Regions from separate parts of the Homo sapiens genome. Here region 1 is linked to region 2. Evidence: fine-mapped expression QTL. Tissue or cell type: visceral fat. Region 2 holds a variant in brackets; the other region holds the start of a gene. All regions are shown on one strand. Distances are between the middles of the regions. Region 1 holds the start of RNF157 (ring finger protein 157). Region 2 overlaps RNF157 (ring finger protein 157).

Region 1 (2,745 bases), 27 kb before region 2:
CGGTGGCTCACGCCTGTAATCCCAGCGCTTTGGGGGGCGGAGGTCAGGAATTGGAGACCAGTCTGGCCAGCATGGTGAAACCCCATCTCTACTAAAAGTAGAAAAATTAGCCGGGTGTGGTGGCACATGCCCGTAGTCTCAGCTACTCGGGAGGCTGAGGCAGGAGAATCCCTTGAACCCAGGAGGCGGAGGTTGCAGTGAGCTGAGATCACGCCACTGCACTCCAGCCTGGGCGACAGAGGGAGACTCCGTCTCAAAACACAGAAAAACAAAAACAAAATATAACCAGGAAAGACCTAGACTCCGTAAAATAGCTTTACAAACCTAATCAAGGGAACCAGACACCCCAAACTGTACTTCGAACACTGTTGAAAAGTTGTGAAAGTCATGTTCTAGCAGTTGAAATGTTTGCTGATCAGTCCACTCTCTCAGGAAAAAAAACACCAGACCCACAAAGAAAATAGAAGGTTTAAAACACAAATGTCTGTAATTAAGCAATGGAATGACGTCTTCCGCCGGCCCAAGCTTCCCACTGTTGTGTGTGTTTTTATCAACAGGAGCTCCCGGTTCTGCCTGGCCCGGTTCGCTTTCGCCTGCGTTGACTCTCTTGGCACTCAGGCCTTTCCAAAGTTTCCGGGGTCCCGTTTCCACGATACAGACAGAGGCTGGATGTCTTGATCTTATCCTCAGTCGATGTTCTCCTAACTTTAGGGCTACAAGGAGCCTTAAACAGCATGTATAGAGTTGGGAGCGCTTTGAATAGACGCACGTGAGAGGGAGGCGGCATCTTCCTAGCCGGTCACCAGCATTAACACGGGGCAGGAGACATGCGAATGCACCGTGGGACCCCTCTCCCTACCCCCCTGCATGAGATTTCCGAAGACCTCCGCCGGCCGACGCTGAGGGGCGGGGTTGGGAAGGCTTCCTCCAGGCGCGGGAGCAGCGGAGCGGGGACCGCCCGCTTTGGGACGCCCAGGACAATGGCGAGCGAGCTCCCGGCCAGTCCTCGCGGACCGCGGGAGGGGGCGGCTCCCTGCGCGGTAATCCGAGCCGGGATAAACAGGCGCGGAGGGGCGACGCGTCCCGGCCGGGTGCAGCGCTCGTCTCCTGGGGTCCCAGCTCCGGCCGGTCCCGCCCCGCCCCGCCGCGGGCACCCGGCCGCGCCCCCGTCCCCGTCGCGAGTCCCCGCCCACGCCCACGCCCCCGCCGCGAGGCCCTGGGCCGCGTCCACGCGCGCCGAGTCCAGCCGCGGCTCCCCGCGCGAGGCACGCGCCGCCGGCTCCTGCTGCAGTCCCGCGCTCATTGGCTGCTCCGGCGCGGGCGCTCCCGCCCCGCCTCGCCATTGGCTGGGGCCGCCGCGGTCCCCGCGCGGAGCGGCCGCTGACATCACGCGGCCTGAGGCGGCGGCGGCGCCCCCGGCCCAGACCCGCAGCCCCCTTGGCAGAGGCGCCGCCGCGGTGCCCGGCGGAGGATGGTGCGCGGCGCGCCGGGGGCTCCCCGCCGCCAGAGCCGCAGCGCCGCAGCGGAGCCGGCCGCGGCGGGCAGTCGGCCCCCGCACCGGGCGCGGGGCGGGCGGCCGCGGTGAAGCGCGGAGGGCGGCGCGGGCACCGGGGCCGGGCCGGGGCTGCAGCCGCAGCGGCCATGGGGGCCCTGACGAGCCGGCAGCACGCGGGCGTGGAGGAGGTGGACATCCCGTCTAATTCCGTGTACCGCTACCCGCCCAAGTCCGGTGAGGGCGGGCGGGCGCCGCAGCCGCGAGGAGGGAGAGGGGCAGGGGCAGGGGTCTGGGTCGGGACGGCCTGAGGGGGCCCCGCGGGTCTTCGGGGACTCAGTGGTTGCGGACGCTCCGAAACGGTCTTCGAGCGCGGGAGGTCTTCGAGAAGGCCGAGGTCTCCCCCGCCCCGGGCGAATTAGCCCAAGGGGCGTCCTGCCGGGTCTAGCAGGGTCACCGAGGGCACCGAGCCCCTCCACGGGAGGACGGGAGCGGCCTCCATTGTAATCGGCCCCGTGACGGGGACGCGTGCCCGCAGGGACCGAGGCTCCTGGGGAGCGGGGCTGCGGCGTCGTAGGCGAGGTCGGCGCCCCGCACGGACCCGGCCGGCCCGGCCCAAAGCCTACCTGCCTCGCGGGGTCCGAGGGCCGCGAGGGAGGCGACCTCGGCATCCAAACAGGCACTTGCGCCAGGTGCTATCCCTGCGCTGCCGTCTCCTGGCCTCTGGAAAGGTTAGAATTAGGTTTCTCCTGGAAAAGCTTCCATTGCCTGCTGAAGGATGGAAGCCAAACAGGCATTTGCAGTGCTGGTGCTTTTGCAGAGGCTGTCAGAAGCCGGGGGGTGGGGGGGGTGGTGGTGGTGGAAAGTAACAGAAATGTTTGGGAATCTGAGTATCAGAGTTACTCGGATTGCCCCTTTGCTAGCGTAGTGGCAAGCCTGGGTTTTGGAGTGGGACCAGCTCTGGGACAGGGCAGAGGTATTGGAAACGTATAGAAGTATGTTTGTTATTAGAATCATCCCTTCACTTAAATGTCTCTAGCCTCTGGATTGTGGTATCAGCATTGGAGGTGGAGGAGGATTTTGACAGCAAAGCAGAGAATCACAAGGTAGTTCAGTTATGTGAGCACCGGCCAGTATGAATTGCATGACCTAGCCGGTGTTTACTTTTAATTGCAAGTAGTTTTATTTTAATTAATTACTTTTAATTTTATTCTCAAGACTTCTGAGGATGAATGGCTGCGACATTCTGTCTG
Region 2 (3,015 bases):
GTCTGTGTAGTAATTGGTAGAGAAAGCCAGGGATAACTGTATTATCTAAATTCGTATTTTCCTGTGAAACAATAATGTTTGCAGCAAGTTAAAGTGTGAAGAACCTTCATCATAGAAGGTTATGGAGGTATAGCAGTAGTGGTGGGTGGGTACTGAGACTTCTGTGTGTAGGTATAAGCTGGCTTATGAAAATCTAGGCAAAGAAATGTGTGCGTCTGCGGATATAGGAAAAAAACTCAGTTTCTCCTATACACTCACAACACAAGCAGCACAGAAAACTTCTGTGACCTCTGGTCAGCAAAATGTGTGGGGATTCTCTCCACCAGCAACCACTCAGTTCTGCAGAGGACACCAGCTGGGTGTCCTCCAATTCATTTCACTTCTGATACTACTTGAAGATAGTGTCCCATCCCACAGGTTGAGGGTGCAATCTCACAAGACTGCCCCCCACTTCTGATGCCCATCGCAAGCCCCAGGTTGTTTTACCTGTGCTTCCAACTAACCAACCAGAAAGCAGGGTTCCCATAACCCCCTCCTTGGGTGTGATTAACTTGCTAGAGGGACTCACAGAACTAGAGAAACACATTTACGAGTTTATTATCAAGGATATTACAAAGGATACAGAGAGAGATACATAGGGCGAGGTTATGTGAGAAGGGGCACAGAGCTTCTATGCCGTCTCTGGGCATGTTACCCTCCAGAAACCTGTAAGTGTTCCCCTGTTTGGAAGCTTTCTGAACCAGTCCTTTGGGTATTTATAGAAGCTTCATTACATAGCATGGTTGATTACATCATTGGACATTGATGATCAACTTAACTTTCATCCCCTCTCCCTTCCTCAGTGGTTGGGGGATGGGCTGAAAGTCCCCACCCTCTAATCCTGCCTTTTCTTTCCAGTGACCAGCCGCCATCCTGAGGCTACCTAGGGGCTGCCAGGCAGTGGTTAATTCATTAGCATATGTAAAGACAAAAAAAAAAGACATCACTTTGGATATTCCAAGCATTTTTTTTTTTTTTTTTTGAGATGGAGTTTTGCTCTGTCACCTAGGCTGGAGTGTAGTGGTGTGATCTTGGCTTACTGCAACCTCTGCCTCCCGGGTTCGAGAGATTCTCCTGCCTCAGCCTCCCAAGTACCTGGGACTTCAGGCGCATGCCACCATGCCTGGCTAATTTTTGTATTTTTAGTAGAGATGGGGTTTCACCGTGTTGGCCAGGCTGGTCTCTAACTCCTGACCTCAAGTGATCCGCCCTCCTCAGCCTCCCAAAGTGCTGGGATTACAGGCATGAGCCACCATGCCGGCCTGGATATTCCAAGGATTTTAAGAGTTGCATTCCAGGAAATAGGGTTGAAGATCAAACATATATTTTACAATATCACAGTGTATGTATATGCCGATACCTGTAGCTGAGATTCTTCAATACATGGAATAACTACTTCAAGTTTAAAGGCAAAAGTCAGGAACCAAAAAATATATATGATCATTAATGTGCATTGTAGAACCTTTTGGTCTTTTGGCTGGAGGTATTTTAAACAGATCATTAGAAGAATTCAGTTAAGAATGTTAAAAGGAAAACAGTGATCTAGTCTACGTTTGGTATCTGGGGTTTTCCCTGCTATGATTTTACTTATTTTGTGCCATTGTCCCAAATCAGGAAAAGAAAACACTCTGGGATTAGAAATTGCTCTAATTATTCATTCAGAGGGTTAACTTTTTTGTTTTTGTTTTTTTGAAACAGAGTCTCACTCTGTCGCCCAGACTGGAGTGTAGTGCTAGGATCTCGGCTCACTGCACTTCTGTTTCCTGGGTTCAAGCCATC[C/T]TCCTGCCTCAGCTTCCTGAGTAGCTGGGACTACAGGCATGTGCCACCACACCCGGCTAATTTTTACATTTTTAGTAGAGACAGGGTTTTGCCATGTTGGCCAGGCTGGTCTCGAACTCCTTATCTCAGGCGATCTGTCTGCCTCAGCCTCCCAAAGTGCTGGGATTACAGGTGTGAGCCACCACGCACAGCCCAAAAGGTTAACATTTTAAAAATCAGCTTTTTTTTTTTACTAGATTTAGGTTGACTGTTTTCTGCTTGTTTGATTTTTTTTGTTTGTTCCTCTCTAGGAAGCTATTTTGCCAGCCACTTCATTATGGGAGGAGAGAAGTTTGACTCAACTCATCCTGAAGGTTACCTGTTTGGAGAGAACAGCGATCTGAACTTTCTGGGGAACAGACCAGTTGTGGTATGGCTGTAATCAGTTTACTCCTACTTGGAGCTTAAGTGGCCAATTCAAAAAATGTAACAAAAATAAGTTTGCAGTTGCTTGTTCAGCAGTTTGTAGCTTGGTCTGAGTTGAGAGAGATGCACTAGAAGACAAACTGCAGCCTCCTTGGTTGTATGGGATCTCTTGTTGCTAGAGGACTGGAAGAGCTCCTGGAGTCTTGTGAGGGAGAGGATGAGTCTCACAAATTAAGCTAGGACAGATCTCTCCCTGTCACCTCTTTAGGCAACCCTTTTCCAAGGGCTTACCTTTTTTTTTTTTCTTCATGGCACTTAACACCAACCTTTTATTGATTTGTCTCTTTCTCTGCTTATTGTCTGCCTCCTCCTCTAGAACGTAAGTTTCATAAGGCAAGGACTGTTTTTACTGTAGTATCCCAAACCTAGAACAAAGCCTGGCACGTAATGTTAAGCCCTTAATAAATGATTGTTGAATGAATGACTGAAAATTTTTCTCTTGATATATGAGTTGATATGAGAATACATTTCTCTCACTTGTTCCTTCTCATAAATTTCTATTGCGCACCTTCTCTGCATCATGCAGGAGGCTTTGTAATAATAGCCGCCAGGTGGCTATTGAGTGGCTACCGTGTGCTAGGAAGGTCCTAGAGACCCCTGTTCCATATGAAGACCACTTGACTTAGGACTTATCACTCTATTTTATAAGCGAGAGAACTGAGGTGTTCAGAGAGATGAATAATGACAGAAGCTAGGAAGTGCACACTATGTTCTAAGCACTGTTCTAAGGGT

What was found. PIP is the estimated chance that this variant, and not a neighbour inherited with it, causes the effect.
Region 1: it holds the start of RNF157, and the variant in region 2 is the best candidate, but not a certain one, in a credible set for the expression of RNF157 in visceral fat (GTEx, PIP 0.83).

Annotation. Positions count from the first base shown.
Region 1 is chr17:76,239,137-76,241,881 of GRCh38, reverse strand. RNF157 (ring finger protein 157) reads left to right here and starts at 1,389. Exons shown (of 19, transcript NM_052916.3): 1 at 1,389-1,729. The coding sequence starts at 1,642. It overlaps LOC105371896 (a long non-coding RNA gene), which reads left to right. Exons shown (of 6, transcript XR_007065913.1): 6 at 1-1,020. RefSeq lists silencers at 1,215-1,284, 1,305-1,444 and an enhancer at 1,749-2,421.
Region 2 is chr17:76,211,576-76,214,590 of GRCh38, reverse strand. RNF157 (ring finger protein 157) reads left to right here. Exons shown (of 19, transcript NM_052916.3): 2 at 2,109-2,227. Among named protein-coding and RNA genes, the nearest start is that of RNF157, 27 kb to the left of the region's middle. The variant C/T (reference allele first, on the strand shown) is at 1,819.